Homo sapiens: one gene and its partner. The protein of the gene in region 1 purifies or fractionates together with the protein of each later gene. This does not show direct contact. Each region holds a gene or a part of one and is shown on either strand. Other genes may lie near its edges.

Evidence for each region. Proteins that work in one complex are often made in the same cells at the same time.
Region 2: the proteins of DNASE2 (region 1) and RRM1 fractionate together in Homo sapiens (co-fractionation; one large-scale study listed by BioGRID). This does not show direct contact.

What each region holds. Positions count from the first base shown.
Region 1 is NC_000019.10:12,878,342-12,882,792, forward strand, and holds the start of DNASE2 (deoxyribonuclease-2-alpha precursor), read right to left. Parts: upstream 3,109-4,451; 5' UTR 3,035-3,108; coding exon 2,949-3,034; intron 2,812-2,948; coding exon 2,631-2,811; intron 2,540-2,630; coding exon 2,461-2,539; intron 494-2,460; coding exon 329-493; intron 239-328; coding exon 41-238; intron 1-40.
Region 2 is NC_000011.10:4,121,984-4,125,873, reverse strand, and holds part of RRM1 (ribonucleoside-diphosphate reductase large subunit), read right to left. Parts: intron 3,734-3,890; coding exon 3,654-3,733; intron 2,692-3,653; coding exon 2,490-2,691; intron 1-2,489. UniProt on the Homo sapiens protein: Provides the precursors necessary for DNA synthesis. Catalyzes the biosynthesis of deoxyribonucleotides from the corresponding ribonucleotides.

The DNA.
Region 1 (4,451 bases):
GCAGAGAAGGAGCTCTCCAACCCTCAACCTTGAGACTCACCATCTCCAAATTTGCTGAACTTGGCAAAGCTCTGGAAAACAGCCCCGGCCTGGGATGTGAGTGTGATGCTGCTGTTCCAGGGTTCTTGGCTAACGTGGTGGCCCTTGACCACATTCTCCAAGTCGGGGAATTCCTGGGCAAAGATCCCTTCCAGCTGGTAGTTATAGACCCAGGGGTAGGTGTAGGTCAGCTGCTTGCCTGGAGGACAAGGGGAGGAGGAAATGCAAGATCGTTCCAGGTTCTGGTCAGTAAACCCAGGACTCATCCTGTGTCCCTGACTCGACTTACCCATCTTCGAGAACTGAGCGAAGGGAAAAGACACACAGAGCAGGGTCTGCCCGTAGGTACAGGCGCTATGAGGCCAGCTGTATGCAGCAGAGGAGGCCGGTGGAGGGAAGTTAGGTACACTGTGGACCAGCCAGAAGCCCCCATCGTGGTCAAGGAGCAGGACACCTGGACCAAAAGAAGGCATTAGGGGAGGTCGGGCGCAGTGGCTCACGCCTGTAATCCCAGCACTTTGGGAGACCGAGACACACAGATCACCTGAGGTCAGGAGTTAGAAATCAGCCTGGCCAACATGGCGAAACCCCATCTCTACTAAAAATACAAAAATTAGCTGAGCGTGGTGGTGGACGCCTGTAATCCCAGCTACTCAGGAGGCTGAGGCAGGAGAATCGCTTGAACCCAGGAGGTGGAGGTTGCAGTGAGCTGAGATCCACCACTGCACTCCAGCCTGGGCCACAGAGCAAAATTTCATCTCAAACATAAGTAAGTAAGTAAGTAAATAAATAAATAAATAAATAAATAAATAAAAATTTAAAAAAAGAAGGCAGGCCCCACGCAGTGTAATCCCAGCACTTTGGGAAGCCGAGGAGGGCGGATCACCTGAGGTCGGGAGTTCAAGACCAGCCTGGCCAACATGGAGAAACCTCATCACTACTAAAAATACAACATTAGCCGGGCATGGTGGTGCATGCCTGTAATCCCAGCTACTCGGGAGGCTGATGCAGGAGAATCACTTGAACCCAGGAGGCGGAGGTTGCAGTGAGCCGAGATTGCACCATTGCACTCCAGCCTGGGTAGCAAGAGCAAAACTCCTTCTCAAAAAAAAAAAAAAAAAAAAGGCAATTAGAGGGTATTGCTCCAGGCCTCCCAGCAAGCTCATCTGCAATCAGGAACACCCTCAGTTTGCAGCGGGGCTTAGAGAGGGTGCCAGCAGTGTTAGAACCACAGCTGAGCTCAGTTTTTGCAGGCATAAATTCTTATAGTCCAGAATAACGCCAAGAGTAATGTAAGGTAGGGAAACAGGCCAGGTGTGGCGGCTCATGCCGGTAATCGCAGCACATTAAGAGGCCAAGGTGGGTGGATTGCTTGAACCAGGACTTAGAGACCAGCCTAGGCAACATGGCAAAAGCCCACTCTACAAAAATACAAAAAGTAGGCCAGGTGTGGTGGCTCACGCCTGTAATCCCAGCACTTTGGGAGGCCAAGGCAGGTGGATCACCTGAGGTCAGGAGTTCAATATCAGCCTGTCCAACCTGGTAAAACCCCATCTCTACTAAAACATACAACATTTAGCTGGGCATGGTGGCGCACACCTGTAATCCCAGCTACTCCAGAGGCTGAGGCAGAAGAATCGCTTGAACTGGGGAGATGGAGATTGCAGTGAGCTGAGATTGCACCACCGAACTCCAGCCTGGGTGATGGAGAGAGAGTGCCGCAAAAAAAAAAAAAAAAAAAAAAAGCCAGGCGTGGTGGGGGGTACCGGCAGGCCCAGTACTTGGGAGGCTGAGGTAGGAGGATCACCTGAGCCCTGGGAGGTCAAGGCTGCAGTGAGCTGTGATACTGCACTCCAGCCTAGGTGACTGGGTGAGACCTTGTCTAAAAGAAAATAAAATAGGGGAAATAGATGCCCAAGGTCTGACAGGGGAGATCTCCCACCCCACTATGGAGGTCAGGGGTTAGCTTGGAAAAATGCATAGGAACTCGGCTGGGCAGGGTGGCTCATTCCTGTAATCCCAGCACTTTGGGAGGCCAAGGCGGGTAGATCACTTGAGGTAGAAACCAGGAGTTCGAGACCAGCCTGGCCAACATGGTGAAACCTCGTCTGTACTAAAAATATGAAAATTAGCCTGGTGTGATGGTGCGCCTTTAATACCAGCTACTTGGGAGGCTGAGACAGGAGAATTGCTTCAACCCCAGAGGCAGAGATTGCAGTGAGCCAAGATTGTGCCACTGCACTCCAGCTTGGGTGACAGAGCGAACTCCCACCGTCTCAAAAACAAAGAAAAAAAAAAGTTGGGGGGAATAGATGCCCAGGGTCTGACAGTGCAGATCTCCCCGACCACCCCATGCACGTCAGGGGTTACCTTGGAAAAATGGGACCCGAGTCTCTCCCCAGCCCCCAATCCAGGCCTCACCCTTCGTGTGCCCACGCATGGAAGAGTCCTGAGCCTTGCTGGGTTGAGGCGGTTGGTCATTGTAGAGCAGGAAGGCGAGCTGCGGGCGGATAAACGGAGGCAACGTGAAATTCCTCCCAGGCAGGGCAGCCCTAGAGTTTCGCCCCTAGTTGGCCCGGGGCCCCCTTCACCTGGCTGGTGTTGCTCCGGTACAGCGGCTGCAGGCTTCGGCCCACGGCCCCCTCCGGGCTGTTGATGAGTGCCCTGCCGTCCCGCCAGCCTCCGGAGCTCTCGTCCAGATACTTGTACTGCAGCCCTCTCTGCGCCGCCTCCCCGGACCCTCTAAGAGCTGGCAGCTTGTAGACCACGAACCTGGAGGTCGGAGAATGCACAGAAATAGGAGAGAGGGAAGAGAAGGCACCCCAGGGTTCCCCGAGGAGGTAGCCATCCCGGTTGAGTGACCGCAGCCGGACCCCGGGGCGATGGTAGGCCCCCCGCTGCGCACTCACCAGTCTACAGGCTGCCCGGAGTCCCCGTAGCAGGTCAGGGCCCCGGCGGGGACGCACAGCAGCGCTGCCAGCAGCAGCGGGATCATAGCTGCTATGGGGCTGAGATCCAGGAATCTGTGTCGGGACTGCGGGGCGCTGGGTTACATCAGAGGCCAGGACTGGCACCTGGCGCCTTTCACTTCCCTAAACTTGCCTGGGAACCGGGGCGGGGACATCACGAGGGTACAGACTCCTCCCCCGAGACGCGATGCTGCGTTTTGGAGAGGCAAAAGGCAACGCTGAGTCTGCCCAGACCACGCCCACGACGGGCCCGGCGCTCCAGCGTCTCCTGGAGCCTGGCCACCGTTCCTTTTCGTGGTAGCTAATCCCAGCCCACGCTCTTCTGTCTGACCCAACTCCCGCCCGGGTTTCTGGATCAGGCACAAGTTTGTATTTTATTTTTTATTCCAGCCCTACAACCTGGGTCCAACTCTTGGGACCTTTGTTCTTCCTCTTTTTTTTTTTTTTTTTTTTTTTTTTTTTTTGAGACGGAGTTTCACTCTTGTCGCCCAGGCTGGAGTGCAATGGCACGATCTCGGTTCACTGCAACCTCCGCCTTCCTGATTAAAGCGATTATCCTGCCTCAGCCTCCCGAGTAGCTGGGATTACAGGCGCCCGACACCACGCCCGGCTAATTTTTGTAGTTTTAGTAGAGACGGGGTTTTTCCATGTTGACTAGGCTGGTCTCGAACTCCTGACCTCGTGATCCACCAGCCTCGGCCCCCGAAAGTGCCAAGATTGCAGAAGTGAGCCACTGCGCCCCTTAAGAAGCATTTGTGTTCCAGTGTATCTTCCCCTTTTTCTTTCTTTTTTTTTTTCCTTCCTTTTTTTTTTTTTTTTTTCCCGGACAATATCTCGCTCTGTTGCCCAGGCCGGAGTGCAGTGGCGCAATCTTGGCTCACTGCAACCTCTGCCTCCCCAGCTCAAGTGATCCTCTCACCTCAGCCTCCCGAGTAGCTGGGATCACGGGCACATGCCACTATGCCCAGCTAATTTTTGTAGTTTTTTTTTTGAAACACGGTTTCACCATGTGGCTCAGGCTGAACTCCTGAGCTCAAGGGATCCACCTGTCTTGCCTCCCAAAGTGCTGGGATTACAGGCATGTAATCCACGCCACCCAGACTCTCCTTTTTCATTCTGCACGTTTTCTCCAGGATCCCCTGAGCTAGCAAAGAGGTGACTGTATGTTTGTTTTTTGTCGTTTTGAGACAGGATAATGGTTTCTCACCCAGGCTAGAATGCAGTGACTCCATCACAGTTCACTGCAGCCTCAACCTACTGGGCTCAAGAGATCTTCCCAGGTAGCTGGTACTACAGGCCTGTGCCACCACACCCAGATAATTGTTCATTGCAGAGATGAGGGTCTCACTATGTTGCCCAGGCTGCTCTGGAACTCCGGGGTTCAAGTGATTCTCCCACCTCAGCCTCAAAGGATCATGGCAGGGCAAAGGGCTATGGGAATCT
Region 2 (3,890 bases), on another chromosome or scaffold:
CTACACATGTTGCCAAATACCCATTTTTTTAAATATAGCTTGAATCACAGAAGTCTAATAAATGCCAGGAAGAAAAATAGGCAGGAAAAGAAGACAGAGAGTACTGGGGATAAAGATGAAGGGGGTATAATTTTTAAACAGAATTGTCAAGAAGGACCTCATTGAAAATGTTACATATGAACAAAGAACTGAACAGGTTAGAAAGCAAATCATGTGGCTATGGGAAGAGGGGGTGCATTTTAACATTCAAGAGGGAAGAAGGAGCAAAAATCCTGAGGTAGGAGCATGGTTGACATGTTTGAGAAAAAGCAAGAAAATTAATAGGGTTGGAGCAAAGTGAACAAAGGGGAAAGTAACCGCAGATGAGGTGGGTTATCCAGTTGTGTAGGACCTTGTAGGGCACTGTAAGAACTCTGGATGGAAAGGAATGAAGTACTGATACATGCTACAACATGAATAAAAGAACATGTTAAGTGAAAGAAGCCTGACACAAAAGGCCACATATTATATGACTCCATTCCTATGGAATGTCCACAATGTCCACAAATCTAGAGACAGAAAATATATTAGTGGTTGTCAAGGGCTGAGGGAAGAAGGGAACAGGGAGTGACTGCTAATGGATAAAGGGTTTCATTATCTACAGTGATAAAAATGTACTACAGGCCGGTCACGGTGGCTCACGCCTGTAATCCCAACACTTTGGGAGGCTGAGGTGGGCGGATCACGAGGTCAAGAGATTGAGACCATCCTGGCCAACATAGTGAAACCTCGTCCCTACTAAAAATACAAAAATTAGCTGGGTGTGGTGGCACGCGCCTGTAGTCCCAGCTACTCGGGAGGCTGAGGCAGGAGAATCGCTTGAATCCAGGAGGCGGAGGTTGCAGTGAGCCGAGATCGAGCCACTACACTCCAGCCTGGTGACAGAGCAAGACTCTGTCTCAAAAAAAAAAAAATAAAATAAATAAATACTACAATTAGATAGTGGTAATGGTTGCACAGACTTGCAGATATACTAAAAAAAAGAAAAGAAAAGAAAAGAAAAAAAACACTGAATTGTACATTTTAAAAAGAGTGAATTATAGCTCAATTTGCAAAAAGAAAGAACTCTGTTGAGGTTGCAGTGAGCCACAGCCCAGCTTGGGCAACAGAGTGAAATCTTGACGCCCCCCGAAAAAAAAGGAATTCTGCATGGGTTAGCAAGCCAAAGAGTAGTTTTGTGCAGACAAATGACATTATCTGATTTTTATTTTAAAAATGTCACTCTAGCCTCTATAATATAATCTGTCTTGCATAATAGTTACCTCAATATATGTCGATGTCTTCCAACTAAATTAGAAGTTTCCAGAGGGCAGCATATTTATTTATATTCTCAGAGCACTTAACATTGTGTTTTACATATAGCTACTGCACAATAAATTTTGAATTAAACTGTAACCTTAGCAGTATATTTAACTCACTTTCCATTTACTTCCTGACTTTTCATTTGTCTTTTTTTTTAAGGTCCTAGAATTGAGGATCTACTCCTTCCTCGTTTCCATAGTTTACATCCAAGATCAAAGCAGCCTGTCATCCAACTAGTACAACAATCTCCCTAGGCTAACCTCTAATCCCTTCTCACAGCAAGACACTCTGTAACCAGAAGCAAGAACCTTCCTTTTCATCTTAACATTTTGATGCTATTTTCCTCTCAGAAACCTACAAGGGCTACCTATCCGTGACGTGTCAGCTTCTACCTTCTATCTCCCTTCCCCCAGCCATAGCCATCTCTCCATATTCCAATAATTAATCTACTTGCACCATCAAAACAGACTTACTTGCCACACTGCATAAAACCCAGCCCTGTCTCTGGTGTATCATACAGACCACTCTTTCCAAATGGAAAGCTCCTCTCTCAAACTTTTTTTTAAAACACCAAATCCATGTCCCATTTCTAGCCTTGATTCTTCTGTGAAGTCTCTTTACAGACTTGAGATTAGAATTTGATCTCACCATTCACTGAAAGGACTCTCTTTATAAGCTTACATACTTTTGTTGTTGTTGTTTTTGGTTTTTTGTTTGTTTGTTTTGAGACAGGGTCTCACTTTGTCGCCCAGGATGGAGTACAGTGGCACAATCTCAGCCCACTGCAGCCTCCACTTTCCAGGCTCAAGGCTTACATAGTTTAAATTGAATGTACATCCTAACACATTTTTGTGTGTGTCCTAAACTAACATAACTGTATATTTCTATTTTTCTTGAGTAAATGTTATTACAGTGATGTGTGTATAAGAAAAAACTGTGTCTTTCCCACACGGCTTAGACTAAAAAACATTTATAGGCACAGATCATACCCTTTCCTTCCTTTGCTCTCTGCCTTTAACAGTGTTCTTCTGCTTACAACTATGCAAACTCCCTTCACTTATCTCAAGTGAAATCAAGTGAGGAATTCACAAATAATAACTGCCTAAGGTTCTCTTCTTAGTACTCTAGGAAGAATTTTTTCTACCTACCTCATCTTTGCTGGTGTACTCCACTATTTCTGTGCACAGGTTGCTGCATTTGATGGTTCCCAGGTTCTGCTGGTTGCTCTTTCGATTACAGGAATCTTTGTAGAGCATATACGGGGTGCCTGTTTCCGTCTGAGACTCAATGATGGCATACCAAAGCTGCTGAGCTTTTACAACTTTGCGGACACGACCTTGTTTCTCATAACTGAAAGGCACAGATAATATTATTTAATATATATTCCCTAAAAAAACTTTATTGTAGACAACTTGAAGACATTAAAATATAAAGTTATGAAAACTCTTAAATTTTCTCTAAGTTTTGCTAAAGAAAAAAAGGAATATGATATTTATTTTACTCTAGCTAAAGCCATAGGGGAAAATGAGGCAGTTTTAGGTGCCTTCAGATGATCGCAATCCCACTAAACCAATAATATCTTTCATAATAAAAAGGAGTAAAAACTAAGGAAGCCAAATCTCTTAAGACTGTGCTAAATTTTTTTCCTTTTTTTTTTTTTGAGACGGAGTTTCGTTCTATCACCCAGGCTGGAGTGCAGTGGCACAATCTCAGCTCACTGCAACCTCCACCTCCCAGGTTCAAGCAATTCTCCTACCTCAGCCTCCCAAGTAGCTGGGACTACAGGTGTGCACCACCACGCCCAGCTAATTTTTGTATTTTTACTAGAGACAGGGTTTCACCATGTTGGCCAGGCTGGTCTTGAACTCCTGACCTCAAATGATCCACCTGCCTCATCTTCCCAAAGTGCTGAGACTACAGATGTGAGCCACTGCACCTGACCTATTTAATTTTAATAAACTACTGACATATGTGTCCTAGTCACTCATGATTCCTTTATGCAACATAAAGCATAGCTTATCAAAAGTACTATATGACAGAGCAAAATAATAACCCTACTAGTCATCTTAAATTTTAAAAGGATCAATTAAAAATCCCAAGAACCTATTTATACATTCCAAAGTTTTAAGAAAGAAGAAGACACAACTCAATTTTGGTGAAGAGTCAGGAAGCAAATCTGACCAAAATTATTAGTCACTTTTTCTCTTAGATGCTTCAAAAGATTCTTGACAAGTACTTTTGATATTTGGACCCCTGAAATAAGAGAAACCATGATTAAAACATTATTGTTTTCTTTCATATTTTTCCCATACCTTGCATATAGTTTCTCAAATTCCTCTCCCCAAACCTCATCCAGACCAGGACACTCATTTGGACACATCAAAGACCAGTCCTAAAAAGGAAAGGACAAAATCACTCATAAGAAACTTCAAATAGCCAACCATAATCCATTAGAAACACTGCAAGCATAAGGTGACTTTTACAAGCTCTCTTGGAAATTTGCTGTAGAAATAATCATTTTCAGGTTCAGGCCCAAACATCTAGGTCTG